3 separate regions of the Homo sapiens genome follow, and regions 2 and 3 are each linked to region 1. The links come from fine-mapping of genetic effects on gene expression. A gene starts in region 1. Each other region holds a variant in brackets. All regions are shown on one strand. Distances are from middle to middle.

Evidence for each region.
Region 2: its variant is fine-mapped to the expression of CFDP1 in blood mononuclear cells (TOPMed, PIP above 0.99). The same link has a PIP of 0.9 or more in monocytes and monocytes after LPS.
Region 3: its variant is fine-mapped to the expression of CFDP1 in whole blood (INTERVAL, PIP 0.99).

What each region holds. Positions count from the first base shown.
Region 1 is chr16:75,429,893-75,438,077 of GRCh38, forward strand. It overlaps CFDP1 (craniofacial development protein 1), which reads right to left and starts at 3,611. Exons shown (of 7, transcript NM_006324.3): 1 at 3,397-3,611. The coding sequence starts at 3,460. LOC124903723 (tigger transposable element-derived protein 1-like) reads left to right here and starts at 5,312. Exons shown (of 1, transcript XM_047435019.1): 1 at 5,312-6,328. The coding sequence starts at 5,410. The coding sequence ends at 6,207. RefSeq lists silencers at 1,591-1,790, 3,047-3,286 and enhancers at 3,597-4,106, 3,650-4,217.
Region 2 is chr16:75,344,279-75,352,463 of GRCh38, forward strand. The region is part of intron 5 of CFDP1 (craniofacial development protein 1); the gene reads right to left. Among named protein-coding and RNA genes, the nearest start is that of CFDP1, 85 kb to the right of the region's middle. The variant A/G (reference allele first, on the strand shown) is at 4,018.
Region 3 is chr16:75,372,051-75,380,235 of GRCh38, forward strand. The region is part of intron 5 of CFDP1 (craniofacial development protein 1); the gene reads right to left. Among named protein-coding and RNA genes, the nearest start is that of CFDP1, 57 kb to the right of the region's middle. RefSeq lists an enhancer at 4,557-5,054. The variant A/T (reference allele first, on the strand shown) is at 3,287.

The DNA.
Region 1 (8,185 bases):
CCCATGATGCAGCCCTCAAGAGGTCCTGAGAGCACGCGCCCAAGGTGGTTGGGGTGCAGCTTGGTTTTATATATTTTAGGGAGGCATGAGACATCAATCAAATACATTTGAGAAATATACTGGTTTGGTCCATTAAGACAGGACAACTCGGGGTGGGAGTGCTTCCAGGCTACAGGTAAATTTAAAAATTTTCTTGTTGGCAACAGGTTGAGTTTGCCTAAACAGAAAGGAATGTCTGGGTTAAGATAGAGGTTGTGGAGACCAGAGGTTTTTTTTGTTTGTTTGTTTGTTTTTTCGAGATGGAGTCTCACTCTGTTGCCCAGGCTGGAGTGCAGTGGCGCAACCTCAGCTCACTGCAACCCCACGCCCCTGGTTCAAGCAATTCCCCTGCCCCAGCCTCCGGAGTAGCTGGGATTACAGGCACACGCCACCACACCCAGCTATTTTTTTATATCTTTAGTACAGACAGGGTTTCACTATGTTGGCCAGACTGGTCTCCAACTCCTGACCTCAGGCAATCCGCCCACCACAGCCTCCCAAAGTGCTGGGATTAAAGGTGTGAGCCACCGCACCTGGCCACTTTTTTTTTTTAAATGGAGTCTTGCTCTGTTACCCAGGCTGGAGTGCAGAAGCATGATCTTCACTCACTGCAACCCCCACCTCTTGGGTTCAAGAGATCTCGTGCCTCAGCCTCCCCAGTAGATAGGATTACAGGCGCCCGTCACCACACTTGGCTAATTTTCATATTTTCAGTAGAGATGGGGTTACACCACGTTGGCCAGGCTGGTCTTGAACTCCTGACCTCAAATGATCCACCAGCCTCTGCCTCCCTAAGTGATAGGATTATAGGCTCGAGCCACTGCTCGGCTGAGAACACAGTTTTATCATACAGATGAAGCTTTTAGCAGACAGGCTTCAGAGAGAATAGGTTGCAAAATGTTTATTATCAGACTTAAAGTCTGCATCGATGTTAATGTCAGAGACATACAATGAGGCAGGTTCAGCCCCCACTTCCCATCATGGCCCAAAACAGTCTCTCAGGTTAAATGTTAAAGAGCCCTGGCTAAGGAGGAAGTCCATTCAGATGGTTGGGGGCGCCTTAGAATTTTATTTTTGGTTTACAGCAGTTAAGTACATAGACAGCTAAGTAGCAACAAAAAATGGCAATTATTAGCACCAGAGAAAACAAGAAGTGCAGGAAAAGTAATCTGTATAACATACGGTTCAGCTGTCAACATGATGTTTATTCACACTGTCATTAGAAAAAAAAAACACTGGGCCTGGCACGGTGGCTCACGCCTGTAATCCCAGCACTCAGGGAGGCCGAGGCGGGCAGACCATTTGAGGTCAGGAGTTTGAAACAAGCCTGGCCAACATGGTGTAACTTCGTCTCTACTAAAAATACAAAAAAATCATTCGGGTGTGCTGGCGGGGACCTGTAGTCCCAGCTACTCAGGAGGCTGAGGCAAGAGAATGGCGTGAACCCGGGAGGCAGAGCTTGCAGTGAGACGAGATCCCGCTACTGCACTCCAGCCTGGGAGACAGAGCAAAACTCTTGTCTCAAAAAAAAAAAAAAAAAAAAAAAGAAAAGAAAAGAAAATCGATCGGGTGTGCTGGCGGGCGCCTGTAATCCCACCTACTTAGGAGGCTGAGGCAGAACTGCTTGAACCGGGAAGGCAGAGGCCGCATTAAGCAGAGACTGTGCCACTGCACTCCAGCCTGAGCCACAGAGCGAGACACTGTCTCGAAAGAAAAAAAAACACTGAATACTGATCTAACTAAAACTGGACACAGGTTCAACGGCAGACTACGGAGTTGGGGAGGCCCCGAAGGTGGAAGTGTTTGTGTGTGTGTTTGGGATGAGGGGAAGGAGGTCAGGGGCTACTAAAAATGATACCTACTATACATGGGTTAAATCAATAGACAACAGAAATATAATACCAAATTCAAAAGGTGGAAAGAAGTTTCTCCTGAGGAATATTAAATAAAATAGGGATGAGGGTGATGGGACTGGCTAACTTTTTTTTTTTTTTTTTTGAGACGGAGTCTCGCTCTGTCACCCAGGCTGGAGTGCAGTGGTGTGATCTCGGCTCACTGCAACCTCCACCTCCCGAGTTCAAGCGATTCTCCTGCTCCAGCCTCCTGAGGAGCTGGGACTACAGGCGCGTGCCACCATGCCCAGCTAATTTTTGTGTTTTTAGTACAGACGGGGTTTTACCATGTTGTCCAGGATGGTCTCGATCTCCAGACCTTGTGATCCACCCACCTCAGCCTCCCAAAGTGTTGGGATTACAAGCATGAGCCACCGCGCCAGGAATGGAATGGCTAGTTTTCAACGTGCCTTTTAGAAATACTTCACTAGCCGGGGCGCGGTGGCTCATGCCTGTAATCCCAGCACTTTGGGTGGCTGAGGTGGGAGGATCACTTGAGCCCACGAGTTCGAGACCAGCCTGGGCAACATAGCAAGATGCCATTTCTAAAAAAAAAAAAAAAAAAAAAAATTTAAAAAATTAGCGGGCGTGGCAGCCTGCACCTGCAGTCCCAGCTACTCCAGAGGCTGAGACGGGAGGATCGCTTGAGCCCAGGAGTCTGAGGTTGCAGTGAGCCAAGATCGCATCACTGCACTCCAGCCTAGACAACAGCAAGACCCTGTCTTTAAATAAAACAGAACAGAACAAAGTAAAACAAAGAGAATAGGGACGACTCCTGGGTTGTGTTTTGTTAGTCTGTTTGTTTCTTGTTTGTCTAGTCTTTCAACTGAAGATGTGAATGGGTGAAGATACTTTCAACGAGACGGTTTGTCTGGGGAAGACCAAGAAGGGGGAACAGAAAGATTTCTTCAGTAAGATTCATTCTCACCCCGTTCGGGTTGAGATCCCTAAGGAAAGAAAGTTCTGAGAGGAGAGGATGGGTGGACGTCACAATGAGGCAAAAAGCATCAAAGGGGGAACTTTCTATCAGAACTTTCTAACAACCAGGCGGAGAGCGGACAGCTCTATCTTGGACGGGGTGGTGGCCAGCAGCTCTCTCGGGCCAGGGCTGAAAAAAACCTCCAAGGCTCGGACTGCCGCCCCGACTTCTGAAGCAGCGGTGTCGTTCGGGGCTGACCGACGAGCGTCCCTAGCGACAAGGGGCCGTGTCCATGTGCCGGTTCCCGCGCTGCAAGAGGGGGCGGCGGCCGGAGCTGCCCAACGGGAGGGGAGCACAGAACCGCCACGCGCACACGCCTCGGGCCGGAGCGGCCGAGGATGAGGGGCCTGAGGGAGCGGACGCTCGAGAACAGGAGCCCCCCTGGACCACCTGGGCCACAGGGCAGACGCCCGCGGGGGCAGAGCGCGCCTCACGTGAGGCGTGGGGCGGGGCAATTCGCTTCTCGCCTCAGGCGGAATCGCTCACCCGACGGCACGTAGTCCTCGTCCTCCTCCGACGTAGAGAAGTCTTCGGAGTCGAATTCCTCCATGTTGCTGCCGCTCGACGCTGGTCAAACTCACAAGACCGCAGCAGCCGCCTCCAACGGCAAAGCTCTAGGGAGAGACCATAGAGCCCCGGCGGCGGCGACGGCAGCTAGGGCGGCCCCCGACAGCGCTTTGCACATGCGCAGAGAGTACTACGTGGTTGCCCTACGACACTTCCGGCCGATGCCTCCGGGCTGGCGTCCCTGAAGCCCTCGCTGGGAGCCCGAACCCGCCCGGACGCGGTGCATGCTGGAACTTGTAGTCTTCGGCGCTGCCTCGCCGCCTTAATATAATAAACCTGCTTAAATAAAATTACATATCTATGGAAATACAGGTGACCTTCATTAATCATTAATTCGTAATGCCAAATTCACTTACTTGCTAAAATGTATTTGTAACCCTAAAATCAATCATCACGGTACTGTCTGGGGTTCTTCCCGGGCATGCGCAGAGGGTGAAAATTTGGAGTTGGCGGAGGTAAGGTTCCCAGCTGAAGTTTGAACTGGGAGAAGCGCCGCCTTCTAGTCGCAGCTCCTGTGCTGTAAACAAAGAGTCCTTTCCGCAGTCTGTTTACTGACACTTTTTTTTCTGCTTTTTGTGGGTGGTTTTGCTTTCTAAAATGGCCCCCAAGCGTAGTGCTTAAGCTCTGCCCAGTGTTCCTAAGCGAAAGAAGACCGTGATGTGCCTTACGGAGAAAGTCCGCGTGTTGGATAAGCTCCAATCAGGCATGAGTTACAGTGCTGTTGGCCATGAGCTCAATGTTAACGAGTCGACAATCCGGTACATCAAGAAAAAGGAAAAGGAAATTCACCGATCTGTCCGTGAGGCCGCTCCGGATAGTGCTGAAGTGACCTCCATCGTGCGTGATGAAGCTATGACAAAGATGGAAAAGATGGAAAAGCGGCTAAATTTGTGGATTCATGAGATGTCAATCGATTAAAAAAAACATAGTGGACAGCATTGTGGTGAGGCTGAAAGCCAAAGATATCTGTGGTCACGTTACCCAGAGTCAAAGAAATGCTAAGCCCTTCTCGGCGAGTGCTGGCCGGCTCGCGCGTTTCAAAAGGCGATACGGGGTGAAAAATGTTAAACTTGCAGGTGAGGCGAGCTCTGCAGATCAGGAGGCTGCGGAAGAATTTTAAAAATACTTGCTAAGTGTTATACAGGAAAAGGGTTATGTGAAAGAGCAGGTTTTCAATGCGGATGAGACTGGCTTATTTTACAAGGATGTTGGCAAACGAACCTATATAATGCAAACGGCCTCCAAAGCCCCTGGCTTTAAATCATGCCAGGATCATGCACCCTTGTTATTGTGCGCCAATGCCAAGAGCGACTAAAGTGCAAACTCCTAATGGTGTAAAGAACCCAAAATCCACAAGCACTTAACGGGAAATACGTGAACCATCTGCCAGTCTATTGGAGGTGGAACAAAAAAGTGTGGATGATGTCTGATTGGTTCCACAACTGCTTCATCCCAGAAGCTGAACACTGTCTCCAGGGCAGAAACCTTGCCTTCAAGGGTTTTTTGTTTTGTTTTGTTTTGTTTTTTGTTTGTTTGGGTTTGTTTTGTTTTGGTTTGGTTTTGAAACGGAGTCTCGCTCTGTCGCCCAGGCTGGAGTGCAGTGGCGCAATCTCGGCTCACTGCAAGCTCCGCCTCCCGGGTTCACGTCATTCTCCTGCCTCAGCCTCCCGAGTAGCTGGGACTACAGGCGTCCACTACCACGCCTGGATAATTTTTTGTATTTTCAGTAGAGACGGGGTTTCACCGTGTTAGCCAGGATGGTCTTGATCTCCTGACCTCATGATCCGCCTGCCTCGGCCTCCCAAAGTGTTGGGATTACAGGCGTGAGCCACCGCGCCGGGCACCTTCAAGGTTTTGTTAATTTTGGATAATGCTACAATCCATTGCTGCAAAGAACTCGAAAATGCACACGCCAACATAGGAGTTCTTTTTATGCCCCCAAACACTAAGTCTCTCATCCAACCCCTCAATCGGGGCATAATAAAAGCATTCAAGGCACACTACACAAGGGAGCTTTATATGAAGGCCTGTGAGGCTCTCAGGACCAACAAGGAAACCACCATGCTGGACTATTGGAAGTCGGTCACTACATGCAACGTTATTGATTATGTCAGTACAGCCTGGGAGAGCATTGGTCAGGCTACTACCAATAACTGTTGGGAAAATGTTTGGCCAGACTGCGTGGAGAATTTTGAAGGGTTTGAAGGTGTTACAGAAAATATAAAGAACACTGTCAGAGACATAATGCATATGGCACAGCAGGTAAGTGGAGAGGGCTTTGATGACGTGAAGGAAGGAGATGTGGAGTACATTTTGGCAGAGAAGGCAGTGGAACCAACCAACGAAGACCTGGATGAGATGGCAAAAGAAGGCATTGGAGTTGATGGCCATGAAAGTCGGCCCAAGACTTCCAGAATTGTCCCTCTCACAGCGCCAAAATATCAGAATGGAGTTCTGCCTTGGAAAAAATTTTTAGCGACATGGAAGAGTGTGACCCTACGCTTGATCGAAGCCTCAAATTTAAATGGCTGGCCTCCACTGCGTTTGCCCCTTATACCGAGATGCTTAAAGATTTCAGGCAGAAAAGCCAGGCAGGCAAGGCTAATGCAATTTCTCAAGCCAGTTTGGGAGGGAAGATTGCCCACTCCTTCAACAAGTGTCAAGAGCCAGACTCCTAAGGTAGAAATGCCAGAGGTTGACCTGCCACCCTCTTCCTCTTCTGCAGAATAAATTTCACTCACCCCTCCCCTGGTTTCTGTGGGGCAAGCCAAGGTCGAGAGGTTTAACCACATTGTGCAGCTCCATCAACCGTAAGATTTTAGTTGATATTTTTATAAAACTTAGGATGCTCCATCTTTGAACTTTTTCCCTTTATTTGTATTGCTGTACTGTAGGGTATACAGTATGTGTGCAAAGTAGTGTATGTGTTTACTGTGGGAACTGTACAGTATGTTATACTGTTGACTGTATATGGGAACTATATGTGTGTACTCTGTGTGTGCCAATGAAAAGGTTGTACAGGCTGGACGCGGTGGCTCACACTTGTAATCCCAGCACTTTGGGAGGCTGAGGTGGGCGGATCACAAGGTCAGGAGTTCAAGACCATCCTGGCCAACATGGTGAAACCCTGTCTCTACTAAAAATAGAAAAATTAGCTGGGTGTGGTGGTGGGCGCCTGTAATCCCAGCTACTCAGGAGGCTGAAACAGGAAAATCGTTTGAACCTGGGGGTCGGAGGTGGCAGTGAGCCAAGACCATGCCATTGCACTCCAGCCTAGACAAAAGGGCAAGACTGACTCAAAAAAAAAAAGTAGTGCAATCTCAGTACACTAGAGTACATTACACCAAACTACTGTCATTGAAATTTTATTGTAAATACTGCAGATTATTTTTAAGAAATACATATTAAATAAGGTGTCTTTGAACAGAAACACACATAAAACAAAGTTACATACCGATCAGTTGACAAAAGTGTTGACCAGAGGTTCACAGGAACCTAACCCTGTATTTCTCCCAGGACCCATGGTTCGGTTTTTGCTAATTCAATGTTCTCGACAACTTTATAGCCATAACTACTGTGAATACAAAGAATTGACTATTCAGGAATGCAGCCATCATCCACAGGAACCCTTCAAGTTAAACCATATGGAAGTACAACCATATATAATCTTTACCATTTCTTCAGATTAAAACATTTTAATGATCTATTTATGAGGTAACAATCAGAAGCAAATTCAGAAGAGACACCAATGACTACCACACTATTTGGTTTTGTTTGTTTTTGAGATGGAGTCTCTCTCTGTCGCCCAGGCTGGAGTGCAGTGGCGCGATCTCGGCTCAATGCAACCCCCACCTCCCTGGTTCAAGCAATTCCCCTGCCTCAGCCTCCCAAGTAGCTGGGATTACAGGCGCACGCCACCACGCCCGGCTATTTTTTTTTTTTGTATTTTTAGTAGAGACGGGGTTTCACCATGTTAGCTAGACTGGTCTCAAACTCTTGACCTCAGGCAATCCGCCTGCCTCGACCTCCCAAAATGTTGGGATTACAGGCGTGAGCCACCGTGCCCGGCAACTATTTGTTTATCTTGTATACAAATATGAGTTTTTGTCAGCTGAAATTGCTCCTCATTGACACTCTGGACTAGACTGGGTCTGTAAATCCAGGAAATCAAGAAATAAATCTTTTGTGAATCAAGGAATAGATGAGACATGCATGTGATTAATAAGACATTGCAATGGCTCTATACCAGCAAACTTTTAAAAATAGCCTTATTGATTGGGAGGCTGAGGCAGGCGGATCACAAGGTCAGGAGATCGAGACCATCCTGGCTAACACGGTGAAACCCCGTCTGTACTAAAAAATATAAAAAATTAGCCGGGCGTGGTGGCAGGCGCCTGTAGTCCCAGCTACTCGGGAGGCTGAGGCCGGAGAATGGCATGAACCTGGGAGGCGGAGCTTGCAGTGAGCCGAGATCGCGCCACTGCACTCCGGCCTGGGTGGCAGAGGGAGACTCCGTCTCAAAAAAAAAAAAAAAAAAAAGCCTTATTGAGACACAATTCACACACCATAAAATGTACCCATTTAAGTGCACAACTCAGGCCAGGCGTAGTGGCTCACGCCTGTAATCCCAGCACTTTAGGAGGCTGAGGGAGGTGGACTACCTGAGGTCAGGAGTTCAAGACCAGCCTGGCTAACATAGTGAAACCCC
Region 2 (8,185 bases), 86 kb before region 1:
CTACACAACACTGTGTATGTACGAAATGCCACTGAATTGTACACTTTAAAATGGTTAATTTTATGTTAGGTGTATTTCACCACAGTAAGAAAACAAAGGAAATCAGGTGTCAAATCACTTTAATTGCTTTAGAAAACAAAATCATGGGACTTATGCCATTAGAAAAGTAACTATAAAATAATGGTACAATTCGTGACTGAACAACCACGTTATAGCTTATGTTCAGATATTTTATAGTAGGCGTGTATTCACCTAAGAAAAACCAAAACAAGAAGAAAAACTGAATGAAAAGCTACTCAAAACAAATCTTCAGAAAGGGACTAATAACCCTTACAAAGAGCCCAGAAGTAACATCATTTAGAAAGAACATCCTGGCTGGGCACAGTGGCTCACACCTGTAATCCCAGCACTTTAGGAGGCCCAGATGGGTGGATCACAAGGTCAGGAGTTTGATACCAGCCTGGCCAATATGGTGAAACCTTGTCTCTACTAAAAATACAAAAATTAGCTGGGCATGGTGGTGCGTGCCTGTAGTCCCAGCTACTTGGGAGGGTAAGGCAGGAGAATCACTTGAACCCAGGAAGCAGAGGTTGCAGTGAGCTGAGATCGTGCCACTGCACTCCAGCCTGGGCAACAGAGGGAGACTACATCTCAAAAACAAAAAAAGAAGAAAGAAAAAAAGAAAGAACATTTTCAGGCTGGGTAAAGTGGCTCGTGTCTGTAATCACAGCACCTTGAGAGACTGAAGTGGGAAGATCACTTAAGCCCAAGAGATCAAGACCAGCCTGGGCAATCCCAGCACTTTGGGAGACTGAGGCAGGAGGTTCACTTAAGCCCAAGAGTTTGAGACCAGCCTGGGCAACAAAGCAAGACCCCATCACTACAAAAATAAAACAGGCTGGGAGCAGTGGCTCACACCTATAATCCCAGCACTTTGGGAGGCCGAGGCAGGTGGATCACTTAAGGTCAGGAGTTTGAGACCAGCCTGGCCACCATAGCAAAACCCTGTCTCTACTAAAAATACAAAAATTAGCTGGGCATGGTGGTACATGCCTGTAGTCCCAGCCACTCAGGAGGCTAAGACATGAGAATCGCTTGAATGTGGGAAGTGCAAGTTGCAGTGAACCTAGACCGTACCACTTTACCTCAGCCTGGGTGACAGAGTGAGACTCTGTCTCAAAAACAAAACAAAACAAAAAAAAACAAAACATTATCTGGGCATGGTGGCTATGCATCTGTAGTCCCAGCTACTTAAGAGGCTGAGCAAGAGGAAGGAGGACTGTTTAAGCCCAGGAGTTCAAGGATGCAGTGAACTATAATCATGTCACTGTTCTCCTCCCTAGATGACAAAGACCCTGTCTCTTAAAAAAGAAAGAAAAGAACATCCCAAAGTCTGCAAGAGAGTTTGGTAATAAGAGATCAAGATCATATGTTTTTTTCATGCCATGAGTTGTTAAACAAAAGATCATTTGTTTTCTTACTGTGATCAGTTAGACCACCATGAGGAAAATAATTAAGTAAACTTTAAAATCTTGAAAAATGCTGAAAACTTTGAAAAATGTTCAAGGCACATGACAGTGGGTCCTAAGTTGGTGCTCATTTGCTGTAAGACCTGGTCATGTCATCGGTGACTAAGCTGAGGCTGCACCAGAGAACATAATCAAGGTCTTCTAGATATGAGGTCTGAGGCTTCCAGGTCTCTACTCAAGAAGAAATCTGAATGCATGTGAAGTGAAAAAGAATTGGATGGTAGTGTGAGCAACACGGAACAATGGCTCAAATGTCAATGTTCAGTACTCCCAATGCATCTCCCATGAGCACTTCACTGTGCTTAAATTCTGCTGAATCCTCAGTGTTTACTAGCACATGTGAAGTGAAAGTAACAGAAAGGTGGTGAGATTGTGTCCTGGATTCTGACATCAAAGCTGTAGGTAAATGTAAATGAAGTAGCCCAAGGACCAGGAATGTCAATGTGCTGAAGTTCTCTAGGGGTAAACTCTCCAGTGTAAAGAGCACCAGGTAGGGCTGGGCATGGTGGCTCACGCCTGTAATTCCAGCACTTTGGCAGGCCGAGGCAGGTGGATCACGAGGTCAGGAGATCGAGACCATCCTGGCTAACACGGTGAAATCCCATCTCTACTAAAAATACAAAAAATTAGCCGGGCGTGGTGGTGGGTGCTTGTAGTCCCAGCTACTCGGGAGGCTAAGGCAGGAGAATGGCGTGAACCTGGGAGACGGAGCTTGCAGTGAGCCGTGATCATGCCACTGCACTCCAGCCTGGGTGACAGAGCAAGACTCTGTCTCAAAAAAAAAAAAAAAAAAAAAAAAAAAAAAAAAGAGTACCAGGTGGACAGGATGAAGGAAGCAACAATAAACTAAGTTTTATATAATCGATATTGGATATACTTTGATTTTCCAAGATAGCTCTAAAATCTTCCACTCAAAAAAAAAAAAAAAAAGTCAGCACCTACTACAAAAGATTGATATGCCATCCAAACTCTGGAAATAATTTTGCCCCATTCCTCTTCTCTGAGGTGGTATTTTGCTGCCTAATCAAAACTCGAAAATCTAGTTAGTCAACAGGACTTGCCCACCCCACTCCTGAAAAAAAATTCTGCTTAGCTTGGGAAAACACAGATGGTCTTGTCTGTCCTTCCATATGACAGCAAGTAGTTGGTGTCACAATGCGTCCCGGGAGCAGGAGTTCAGTAACAAGGGTCAGCATTTCTTTATTAATAGCATGAAAATGCATCCCAAGTGACCTTCAAAATAGAAGAAAGAACAGGCCAGGCACGGGGGGCTCACACCTGTAATCCCAGCACTTTGGGAGGCTGAGGTGGGTGAATCACGGGGTCAGAGTTCGACAACAGCCTGGTCAACATGGTGAAACCCTGTCCCCACTAAAAGTACAAAAAGTCAGCTGGGCATAATGGCGGGCGCTTGTAATCCCAGGTACTCAGGAGGCTGAGGCAGGAGAATCGCTTGAACCCAGGAGGCGGAGGTTACAGTGAGCCGAGATCGGACCATTGCACTCCAGCCCTGGCGACACAGTGAGACTCCATCTCAAAAAAAAAAAAAAAAAAAAAGAAAAAGAAAAAGAAAAAGAAAAAAGAAAAAAAAAGCAGGCGCAGTGGCTCACGCCTGTAATCCCAGCACTTTAGGAGGCCCAGGTGGGTGGATCACGAGGTCAAGACATCGAGACCATCCTGGTTAACACGGTGAAACCCTGTCTCTACTAAAAATACAAAAAATTAGCTGAGTGCAGTGTCAGGCACCTGTAGTCCCAGCTACTCGGGAGGCTGAGGCAGGAGAATGGTGTGAACCCGGGAGGCGGAGGTTGCAGTGAGCTGAGATCGCGCCACTGCACTCCAGCCTGGGTGAAAGAGCGAGACTCCGTCTCAAAAAAAAAGGAAGAACAAAGCAATACAAAACCATAAATTTAAAGGGAAAACTTTACAGTGGAGACATCTGACAAACTCCATCTTGACCAAATGATTAAAGTTAATATGAGTAATACACTGATATATGAGAAAAGGACAAATCCCCTCTCTGGTGGTCTCTCCAACATCCATAACCTCATTCTCATCATGCGAAATCACGAAGCAAACCCAAATGAAGACACACTCTACAAAATACCTGGCCAGCACTTTCCAAAGGCAATGTCATGAAAAATAAATATAGGCTGAGAAACTGTCATGGGGCGGGAGAAGACTAAGGAGACATGACAACTAACTAAATGTGGAAAATGGGTTTGGGTCCTGGAACACAAACGGTTATTAGTGGGAAAACTGTCAAAATCTGAAGTCTATCGTTTAGTTAATGGCGCTGTACCAATGTTAATTTCTTTCTTTTTTAGAGACAAGGTCTCACTTACTATGTTGCCCAGGCTGGAGTACAGTGGTGATTCACAGGAGTGATCACAGCACACTGCAACTTCAAACTTCTGGCCTCAAGCAGTCTTCCCTCCTCAGTCTCCAAAATAGTTGGGACTGCAGGTGTGAACCATGCTTGGCTCCC[A/G]ATGTTAATTTCTTAGTTTTGATAAATGTACTAAGATTATATAAGATGTCAGCATTAGAAGAAGCTGGGTGAAGCGCTTATGGGAACTCTGTACTATCTTTACAACACTTCTGTAAATCTAAAGTTATTTCAAAATAAAATTTAAAAACAATAAACAAAAAAATCAACTTTAAGCCCAAAGCCTAAAATTTCTTGGGCTCTGCTTTTGTGGCTCATCTTGAATGGGAAAGAAATGCTCATTTAATATTAAAAACCTGCAGTAGACCATAAGTTGTTTTTTTCTTTTTTGGCTCACTTTATATTTTTAAAATTCAAATTTTACTGCAGTAATTATTTACTGCAAGCTTTTTTTTGTATTGATATAATTTGCACATCATAAGATACAGCTCTTAAGTGAATCATGTCTGTGTTGCCATATTATCTTTCAATCCATGAACATTAAATGTCTTTACTCAGAACTCATTAATTTCTTTGAACAGTATTTTGTAGATTTCAGCATACAATTGTGCACATCTATTGTCAAAGTTATTCCTATTCTTTTTGATGCTTTTGTAAATGGAACTGTCTCCATTTAATTTTTGTTTTCAGAGACAGGGTCTTGCTGTCTGCCACCCAGGCTGGAGTATAGTGGTACGATCACAGCTCACTGCAGCCTCAAACTCCTGGGCTGGAGCGATCCTCCTGCCTCAGCACCCTGAGTAGCTGGGACTACAGGGGCATGCCACCACACCTGGATAACTTTTTTTGTTCGTTTTCTGGTAGAGATGGAGTCTCTGTTGATCAGGCTGGTTTTAAATTCCTGGCCTCAAGCAATTCAGCCTCTTAAAGCCTCCCAAAGTGCTAGGATTACATCCATGAGCCACTGCACCAGGGCTGTCTCCTTAATTTCATTTTTGGATGGTTCACTGCTAGTTTATAGAAATACAGTTCTTAGGCTGGGTGCGGTGGGTCACACCTGTAATCTCAAGGCACTGTGGGAGGCCAAGGCAGGTGGATTACTTGAGGGCAGTTCAGGACCAGCCAGGCCAAAATGGTGAACTCCCATCTCCACTAAAAATAGAAAAATTAGCCGGGCGTGGTGGCGGGCGACTGTAATCCCAGTTACTCAGGAGGCTGAGGCAGGAGAATCACTTGAACCCGGGAGTGGAGGTTGCGGTGAGCCAGGATCATGCCACTGCACTCTAGCCTGGGTGACAGAGCGAGACTCTGTCTCAAAAAAAGAAAAAAAAGAAATATAGTTCCTAGCACTTTGGGAGGCTAAGGCAGAAAGACTGCTTGACCCCAGGTTGAGAATGCAGTGAGCTGTGTTTGTGCTGCTGTACCCCAGCCTGGGCGACAGAGCGAGACTCCGTCTCAAAAAAAAAAAAAAAAAAAAAAAAAAAAAAAAAAAAAAAAATATATATACATACATATATACGGTTGATTTTTACATATTGATCTTGTATCTTGTAACCTTGCTGAACTTGTTCATTAGTTCTAATCAATTTTTAGTGGATTGCTTAGGATTTTCTCCATATTAGAGCATACCATCTGGGAATAGTTCAACTCCTTTCTCTCCAATTTGGATGCCTCTTGTTTCATTTTCTTGTCTAACTGCCCTGGCTAGAAGCACCAATACAAAGTAGAATAGAGATGGCATGAGTAGACATACTTGTCTTTTTCCTATCTTAGGAGAAAAGCATTCGGTTTTTCATGATTAAGTATGACATTAGTGGTGGGTTTTTCATGGATGTCCTTTATCAGATTGAGGAAGTTCCTTCTATTCTTAGTTTGCTAAGTGTACTCTGTTCTTTTTTATAGCTGAATAATATTCTACTGTTTGGACATACATTTTGTTCATCTGTGTTTATCAGTTGAAAGTCATTTGAGTACCTCTACTTTTTGGATGAATAATGCTGCTATGAACATATGTGTGCAAGTTTTTGTGTGGATATATGTTTTCATTTTTTGTGGGTATATGCACAGAATTGTTAGGTTGTATACAGCTCTATGTTTAACTTTGAGAATCTGCCAAACTCTTTTCCTATGTGGCTACACCATTCTATATCCAACCAGCAAGGTATGAAGGTTTCAACTTCTCCATACCCTTGCCAACACTTGCTATTTCCATCTTTTTAAATTATAACCATCCTAGTGGGTGTGAAGTATTATCTCACTGTGGTTTGATTTGCATCTCTCTAATGAATAATTATGTATTATAAGCTCTTTTAAATTAAGTATTGTTATTTTTAAATTATTACAGACATTTAATCAGACACTTAATTGGCCATAACTTAAGTAGAGGATAGCCTTAAATTACGTTGAAATCCTTGCCAGAAACCACAAAAACATATAAGCATAAGACTATTCATTGCAAGACTCTGTAATAACAAAAGACTAGAAGCAACCCAAATGTTATCAAAGAAAACTAATTGAACAAACTGGTAATTCATACAATGAAATACTTTGCATCCGAAAACAAAATAAATGAGGAAACTCTCAAATGAAAAAAAGTAGAGAAAATTGTATATGGTCTATTACCGTTAATCCAAGATACGCAAGATAAATAAAAATTTAAATGGGAACAAAAGCAATTCCCAAAAATAAATGAACCTAATGTGTCCAACTGGTAACATTACTACAAACAGAAAAACTACTTCAAGTGACTTTAGAACACAGAAATTTGACTATACATTTCTAGTGAGATAAAATCTAATGACAAAAAAAAACTGCAAAAACAAAACAAAGCACAACAAGCCAATTTAAACCATTTGTACTAATCATACATACAATAGGTCAATGTATGTATTGTGAAATAAAATAAATGGATATTTATATGACATCTCATCATTCCGGTGTTTTGTTCTTAGGAAGGTAGAAGCTTCAGATTTAAGATAACCTGAGAGTTCTAAACTTGATTTGTAAGTAGCTGTACTGTTTCTAAAGTAAAGAAATAAAAATAAGACAAAGCAAAACATAATTATTTACTCTATGTATTGATAAATCCTTGAAACAATAACCAACTCAGTAGCAACTGGCATTCTTATCCCTAATGTCTTGAAATAATGTTTCCCACAGAAAGAAAGCAGGGCTTCCAGATTAGATGACTAATACCAGGTCTGGGACAGGAAATGTACTAAAGGGGCCTGGAATGTTTTGTTATGCCATACAGGGATGGAAGCTAGCAAAGACTATTAAGGTCACTATCAAAATAACTAACTAATTTGAAGAACTTATTTGTCAAATATAAAACACTTTGAGAATCAATAAGGATAATGACTGCAATGGACTGAAACAACATCAAATGTTTAAATTCATGAGTTCATAATAAAAAAATACAAATTAGTTACTATGGAGGAGGTTAGTGTACCAATCAATTTTGAAAATGAAAGGGAAAATACTTATCTTTCCTATATGAATTGGGAAAATAAAAGGATATGAAAAGGTAAATAGCCAAGTGTGGTGGCTCACGCCTGTAATTCCAGCACTTTGGGAGGCTGAGGGAGGTGGATCATTTGAGGTCAGGAGTTCGAGACCAGCCTGGCCAACATAGTGAAACCCCGTCCCTATTAAAAATACAAAAATTAGCCAGGTGTGGTGGCACACGCCTATAATCCCAGCTACTCAGGAAGCTGAGGCAAGAGAATCACTTGAACCCGGGAGGTAGAGGTTGCAGTAAGCCAAGATTGCGCTACTGCACTCCAGCCTGGGCGACAGACTGAGACTCTGTCTCAAAAAAAAAAAAAAAAAAAAAAAAAAGAAAAGGTAAATGAAAGAATTTATTCGCTGGGTGCTGTGGCTCACACCTGTAATCCCAGCACTCCGGGAGGCTGAGGTGGGTGGATTACTTGAGGTCAGGAGTTTGAGACCAGCCTGGCGAACATGGCAAAACCCTGTCTCTACCAAAAATACAAAAATAAGCCAGGCATGGTGGTGCGTGCCTGTAGTCCCAGCTACTGGGGAAGGTGAGGCAGGAGAATCGCTTGAACCCAGGAGACGGAGGTTGCAGTGAGTCGAGATCACGCCACAGCACTCCATCCTGGGCAACAGAGTAAGACTTTGTCTCAAAAAAACAAAACAAAACAAATTAAAAACCAACAAAAAGACCACCCAATTAAAAAAAAAAGAATTTATCTTCCTATATGAATTGGGAACCAAACAGAGAAGGAGATGAGACTTATTATCTTTA
Region 3 (8,185 bases), 58 kb before region 1:
TAAAAGAATTAAGTAAAACTATTATTTGCACCAGGCAATCCTGTTCAAGTCAAAAGCATATATAATACTCTACCTATTTCTAAAAAAGGAGCCAGCAATAACCATGACAGCTTTCTCTTCCCTATACTGTAAAATATAAGAAGTCCAAAGTAATAGCTATAAGAAGGGTTTTAATCTGAAGAGTTTGACAGAGAACTAAGAATCCCCAAATAATCAAAAAGAAAAACTCATCACATCTAGTGGTAACAAAATTCGGATATATATGGTTTTCATATCTGTTCATGAATAACTCAACAATGGGCAGCAAAAACACACCCACAATTTCAAGACTCTGGCCAGGAGTGCTGACCAGCCTCAATAAAATGTCAGCTTGCTGCCAAAGGATCCAGATCAGTGGAATTGTCCAGTTCTCTAAGGAGACAATGCAGAGTTGCCTGCAGACTGGTTCTGAAATCGAACCAGAACTAGAACTTAAAAACAAAAAGCAGATCAATCTCTAGGCATCAAATTTCTTCTTCCTGAAAGAATAAACAGAAAACCTAAGTGAGTTATTCTAGCTGTACCTCAATCCAGGGTTTAGTCTGGAAGCCAATCTACTTGCTCAACTGTTTGCAAAGTTCATTCAACTCTTCCTCCCAGGTTTTGTTTCATGAGAGAAAAATAAAACCATCATCTTTTGGCAAGATGGAGTATTAACTTTTCTCCTGGTATTGCTGTCACTCACAGTTAAAAGAAAATGCACGCACACACAAATACATACCCTTTAAATGTCTAATTTAAATCCTAAATAACCCAGAGTACATGTGAGGGAGGAGAAAATAAAAGCCTTAGCAAGGAATATTTTAGTTCCAAAATTCTAAAGGCAAACTGCTAACTGAAAAGGGAAATTAACTTTATCAACTGTAAAAGAAAAAAATTCAACATCTTGTTGTTTTAAAGGAGTTCCCCGGCATGGAAGCAGATCATACACTTGATTCCTGATGCAGGAACTGAAACAACTCTGGCCCAGAGATAAAAGGGTGACAATTTGCTTGACACACCTATGCTGGAGCAGCTACTCCCATCTGTCTACTTTCCCTCCTTCCCCTAAAAGCTACTTAAGTCTCGGTTTATCCAGTTACATGTGCTAAGTGAAAAGAAGGCATAATTCCCAAGCCACGTTTTTGGAAATAACATGGTGACCCATTTCAACACTTACACACACAGATGTTAAATTAGCCAAAGTATATTTAAATAATCTCATCTCATTCATTCTTGCTAATGCTCATAGATTCATTATCGTATTGGACTTTCTTCCCACAAAATGACTGGCCTTATACCAAGTTTTATAAATATTAAAAAGGTTGTTTTGTACTAAAAAAGAAAATAACTGGAGGAGAGGGAAGCTTCTCAAAAGAACTTTCACATGGTGGGTAATATAAATGTCGCTAAGATAAGATACACAACGCTGGATTCTTTTTCTCTGTGACCCCTGCCCACCCCCCATTCTACCTAAACTCACTGTGTAACTAATCATGAACAAAAGAGAGGCACAGTTTGAATTTCAGCTAGAGATACACACTGTATTCAAAGGGTTTGCTTCCCTAAAGACTGTATTCTTTTTATTTTTATTTATTTATTTTGGTATGAACGGGGTCTCCCTATGTTGCCCTGGCTGGTCTGAAACTCCTGGCTACAAGACTGTATTCTGCTCTAGATACGAAGCCATTTTGTCCTTTACAAGGGAAGCCTTGACTTCCTCTACACAATTTACTAATCCTAATTGTAATAAGCATTTCCATTTGAGAAAAAAATTCTGGTAGGAATTGTATCATCTTTCTAAACATGAGGCAATCTTTACAAACATACTGTTTCTCAGAAAGAAAATGATAAAAAACCTAAATGTCTGTATAGGGAGTTAGTTTTGAAAATTATAGAACTGGCCAGGCACGGTGGCTCACACCTGTAATCCCAGCACTTTGGGAGGCCAAACCAGGTGGATCACCTGAGGTAAGGAGTTCAAGACAAGCCTGGCCAACATGACGAAATCCCATCTCTACTAAAAATACAAACATCAGCCAGGCGTGGTGGTGGGTGCCTATAGTCCCAGCTACTTGGGAGGCTGAGACATGAGAATCACTTGAACCCTGGAGGTGGAGGTTGCAATGAACCGAGATCGCGCCACTGCACTCCCGAGACTGTCTCAAAATAAAATAAAATAAAATAAATTATAGAATATTCAAAGTAGAACACTATACTAGCCATTAACAAGAATCAGATAAATGTATAGGCAATAAGATGAAATATGTTAGTATATGTATTTTTGTATTTTCAAGCAAAAAATACAAACTTCAGGAAAATAGGCTTAGATTACTCCATTTATATAAATAAAAAACACTTATATGTGAACAGAAAAGTATCTCATACAGATACACATTCATATACATAGATTACTAAATGCTTAGGGAAAGGTCTAGGACAGAGCTGTCAAATAGAAATAAAATGGGCGGGGCATAGTGGCTCACACCTGTAGTCCCAGCACTTTGGGAGGCTGAGAAGGGAGGATCAGTTGATCCCCGGAGTTTGAGACCAGCCTGGGCAACATAGTGAGACCCCATCTCTTAAAAAAAAAACACACAGAAATAAAATGGGAACCACATACCTAGTTTAAAAACATATTTTAGCCCTATTAAATATAAAAAGAAACAACTGAAATTGTTTTTAATACATTTAACCCAATATGTCAGAAATGTTACTGTTTCAACAATGGAACTGAAATAAAAATTGACTGCTTATTTTTTCTTACTAATTCTTCAAAATTTAGTGTGTATTTATACCTATAGCACATCTCAATTCAGACTGGTGGCATTTCAAGTGTTCAACAGCCACATATAGCTAGTGACTACTCTACTGAACAGTGGAGACCTTACAAAAACCCCACCAAATTATTAACTTTCATTTTGTCTTCTATATCTCTGTGTTGCTTGAATTTTTAGAAGAACACGCATATATTGCTTCTATGTTTCTAAAAAAAAAACCTAAATGTGTCCATATATGAAAATTAATTCAAGGTACAAAAAAAACCTAAACATAAAAGCCAGGACCATTAAAAAAAGGCAAAATCTTCTCAACCTTATAGGCAGATTTCTTAGGACACAAAAAGCACTAACTGTAAAAGACGAACTGAATATCAAAATTAAAAACTCTGCTCATCTAAACACACCACCAAAAAAATGAATAAGCAAGACAAACACTAAGAAAAATTCTTAGCATTTACATCTGACAAACTATCTATATTCAGAATATA[A/T]GAAGAACTCCTATAAACCAATAACAGAATAAAACAACCCAATAAAAATGGGTAAGATTGGAAGAGTCACTTTACACATGAAAAGATGTCATTATTATTAGTTTTCAGAGCAATGCAAACTAAAATCAGAGGAGATACCATTTCACACTTACCCAAATAAAAAAGACTGACAAGGCTGGGCGCGGTGGCTCATGCCTGTAATCCCAGCACTTTGGGAGGCCGAGGCGGGTGGATCACCTCAGGTCAGGAGTTCAAGACCACTCTGACTAATATGATGAAACCCCATCTCCACAAAAAATACAAAAATTAGCCAGGTGTGGTGGCATCCACCTGTAGTCCCAGCTACTCCAAGGCTGAGACAGGAGAATCGTTTAAACCCCAGAGGTGGAGGTTGCAGTGAGCTGAGATCATGCCACTGTGCTCCAGCCTGGGCGACAGAGCGAGACTCCATCTCAAAAAAAAAAAAAAAGACTGACAACATCACATGTGAACAAGGATACGTATGGACCAAGTAGAACCCTCATACATCACTGGCAAAATATAAAATGGTACAACCATCTTGAGGAACTGTTTGGCAGTTTCTTATAACATTAAGACTGAGCGTTGTGGCTCATGCCTATAATCCTTGCAGTTTGGGAGGCTGCAGCAGGAGGACTGCTTGAGCCTAGGAGTTTGAGACCAGCCTGCAACATGGGGAGACCCCATCTCTACAAAAAAATTAAAAATTAGCCAGACATAGTGGTGTGCACCTGTAGTCCCAGCTACTCGAGAGGCTGAGGTGGGAAGATCTCTTGAGCCACAGAGTTCAAGGCTGCAGTGAGCTGTGATTATGCCATTGCATTCCAGCCTGAGTGACAGAGCAAGACCCTGTCTCAGAAAAACCAAATCAAAACCAAAACAAAAACATTAAGCACACATCTACTCCATGACCTAGCAATTCCATTCCTAGGTATTTAGGTACCCAAGATAAATAAAAACATATGTCTTCAAAAAGATTTGGAAATAACCCATACGTTTATCAGCAGGATAGATGGATAAACTGTGGTATATATGAACAATTTATAAAAAGCAATGAACCACTGATATACACAGCAACATGATAAGTCTCAAATACATGTTCTTTCACTGTAGGTAAAAGAATCCAGGCACAAAAATTTAAAAAATGTATGCTTTGATTTCCATGACGTTCTGGAAAAGCAAAACTAATCTATCATGATAAAAATCAGTAGTTGCCTGGGGCAAAGAGCATAGGGCAAAAGCAACTGGAAAGGGGCATGAGGGAACTTTCTGGAGTGACGGAATCATACTATACCTTATCTTGGATAGTGGCTATGAAGTAGTAGGCAGGACAGGATTCCAGAGGCAGGGCTTGGATACCAAACCAAATTGATGACTAGCTAAAACAGGTATGGGGCAGAAGCGGCTTTCTGTAAGACACACCCACCAGTGTGCTATGTCAGTTTACCATTGGTATGACAACACCTGAGAGTTACCGCCCCTTCCCAGAGCAATGACCTGACGATCCAGAAGTTATTACCCTTTTCCTAGAAATTTCTGCATAAACTGCCCCTTAATCTGCATGTAATTAAAAGTAGATATAAATATGACTGCAGAACTGCCCTGAGCTGCTACTCTCAGCACAATGCCTATGCGGTAACCCTGCTCTGCAGGAGCAGTCAAGGAGCTGTTAACACTGCCGCTTCAATAAAGCTGTTTTCTTCTACCACCAGCTAGCTCTTGAATTACTTCCTGAGCAAAGCCAAGACCCTCCAGGGCTAAGCCCCAACTGGGGGCTTGGCTGTGCCCTGTATCAGTTATATGGATGTATTCAATTGTGAAAACTCATTAAATTGAACACTTAAGGCCCCTGTGATAATGAACCTACCTCCTGCCATAAAAGTCAAATGCTATGGGAACCAAAAAGCAGTACTTAATGAATGCTGTTTGATACATGATGAATAGATGAATACATGAAGACTGAGAAAATATTGAAGTGTGGAGTATAATTATCATTAAAATGCTCTCCATCATTCTTCTACCACTATATTGGTGTGAGTCCACACAAATCTCTTCAATTTATTGACCAATCACAATTAAGATGATATCCTTGTCTCTCTGAAATCCTGCTCTATTTATAACTCAACTCTTTCTTGAATATTTCCAATGAATGTCCATATAACAAGCTTTCCAGCTGAAGTAACAAAAGAAATAAAGAAAAGAAAAAGGTGGCAAAGAAGAAACTAAATGTGAGAGAAGATATGAAAAAGACTCCTTGTGTTCAAGTACAATCTAGTCAATTTAGTTCCAAAGGAAGAAAAACATGAAGTCACTAAATATGCTCCTAGTTGAAGGTCAGGGAAACCACTCAGAAAGGCCAACAGTTTGCTTCTCCACTTCTCGAGGTTCACTCAGTTCTATTGTGTTCTCATAGGCAGTAAAAACCAAAAGAAAATCATCCAAAGCAACAAACATGCAGTTGCCCCAAACTGCTTTAGCAATAAATAGAATTTCATGCTGAGTGGCAGACTGTTTAGCTCACATTCCTGTAACGTCCCCTACATCTATTTCACGCAGCAACTTCGCTAGCAGTCACCAGCCACAGCCTGAACACTGTAGTAACAGGGCACATTATACATCAAAATCCCTTAGATACATTTTAACCCAGCATCTATGGTAGAAAACAACCAAGAGTTTCTTGTTATCCACAAGGCAAGCCAAAGTTAAGTGCAGGAAAGGCTGAGGGAATACCATGTGCTTCCTTTCTGACTGGAAAACAAGGCTTCCAGGCAACACAGCAGGGTTTCTGTGCACTCTGACAGGGATGTGCGTTGTAAGCTGCATTGCTATGGAAACAACACTTCTACAACTAGAGGACAAGTCAACCTGAAATAAAGGAAATAGCAGGAATTGCAAAATAGGTCTTGTGGAATGAGTAAGGAGCATCTCACGTCTCTGCTTGAACTATGGCATGATTAAGCTGAAATAAAATGTCATTCCAATCATATAACAGACATTTACAGTCTGTTTTTGGGGTCAGCTACTTGCTGAACACAAGCTATGAAACCAAAACCACCCTGCTTTTAAGATGAAAACTGACAAAATATGCAAAACTAAAAGGATAAGAACTAAATTTCCACAGATCAAAGTTTTAAAAAATGGTGATCATTAATAAAAGCTATTCATTTACTCCTTAATCAAATACTATAAATTATTTGCCACGTACCAGGCTGGACACATACAAAAAAGACAAAATCTACGCCTTCAAGCTCACAGCGTAGTGATGGAGACTAAGGTGTAAAACTGACGATGAGGGAGTATGGGATAGTTAGTGCTACAATAAAGGCTATTAAACAAATGCAGTTGCAAAGGGGTAGTAGTTAGAGTTTAGTGCAAGACACAGACACTGACTGGCCGACAAAAAAGGAATTTATTTAAAAGATATTGGGGTAAAAACAAAGATACTGGTCTTTCCAAGTGTCCACAGAATATACAAGACAGACCACATCCTGGCCCATAAAATTAATATCAACAAATTTAAAAGAGTTGAAATCACAAAGAATGTGTTCACCAGCAACATGATCAAACTAGAAAGCAACAACAGAAAGACAACAGAAAACTCTCTGAAAACTTGGAAATGGAACAATACACTTCTAAATAATGCATGGGTCAAAAAGAAAGTCTCAAGGGAATTAAAAAAATAATGAACGGAATAAAATCATACATGTATCAAAAATTGTTGAATATAGCTAAAGCAGTGTGAGGGAAATGTGTAGTAAGAAATACATACAGTGTAAAGAGGAAAAGTCTCAAATCAATAATCTAAGCTCCAACTTCAAGAATCTAGTAAAAAAAAAGAGCAATATATAGGCAAACCAAGCAGAAGCAAGGAAATAATTATAGAAGTAAATGAAATTGAAAACATAAAGGGAAAGATCAATGAAACAGAGCTGGTTCTTTGAACAGATCAATAAAATCGACAAACGTCTAGCAAGACTGACCAAAAAAAAAAGAGAGAGAGAGAGAAGGCACAAATTACCAATATCGGAGGTAATGAAATGGGATATCACTACAAGTATCAAAAGGATAAGAGAATATTATGCAGAATTCTACCCAAATAAATTTGGCAACATAGACTAATTCCTCAAAAAAGACAAACCACAAGACACTCAATATGAAAGAGCCCTGTAACTATTAAGGAAACAATTTGTCATTTAAAAACTCCCAAAAAGGAAATCTCTAGATTAGTGATTACCAGAGGTTAAGGAGGGGGTGAGGGCAGGAGGAAAGTGTATGTAGCTATAGAGAACATGAGGAATCTTAGCAGATATGAAAATGTTCTGTATCTTGACTATATCTGTCAATGTAAATATCCCAGTTGTAATATTATAAGATGGTACCATAGGGGGAAACTGGGTCAAAGGAACAAGGAATCTCTGCACTAGTTTATATGACTACACATGAGTATACAACCTCTTAAAATTAAAGGTTTATTTATTTATTTTTTTAAAGGTAAAGGGATTGCTGGGCGTAGTGGCTCATGCCTGTAATCTAAGCACTTTGGGAGGCCGAGATGGGCATATCACTTGAGCCCAGGAGTTTGAGACCAGCCTGGGCAACATGGTGGAACCCTGTCTCTACTAAAAATACAAAAATTAGACAGGCGTGCAGGTACTCATTTGTAGTCCCAGCTACTTAGGAAGCTGAGGCAGGAAAATCGCTTGAACTCAGGAGGTGGAGGTTGCACTGAGCTGAGATTGTGCCACTGCACTCCAGCCTGGGCAACACAGCAAAACTCCATCTGAAAAAAAAAAAAGAAAGAAAAGCTACATAGGGTATCTGCACTTAAAGCCGATGAACTTCCATTTTAGGCAAGATGGATACTTAAGATAACCTAAACAT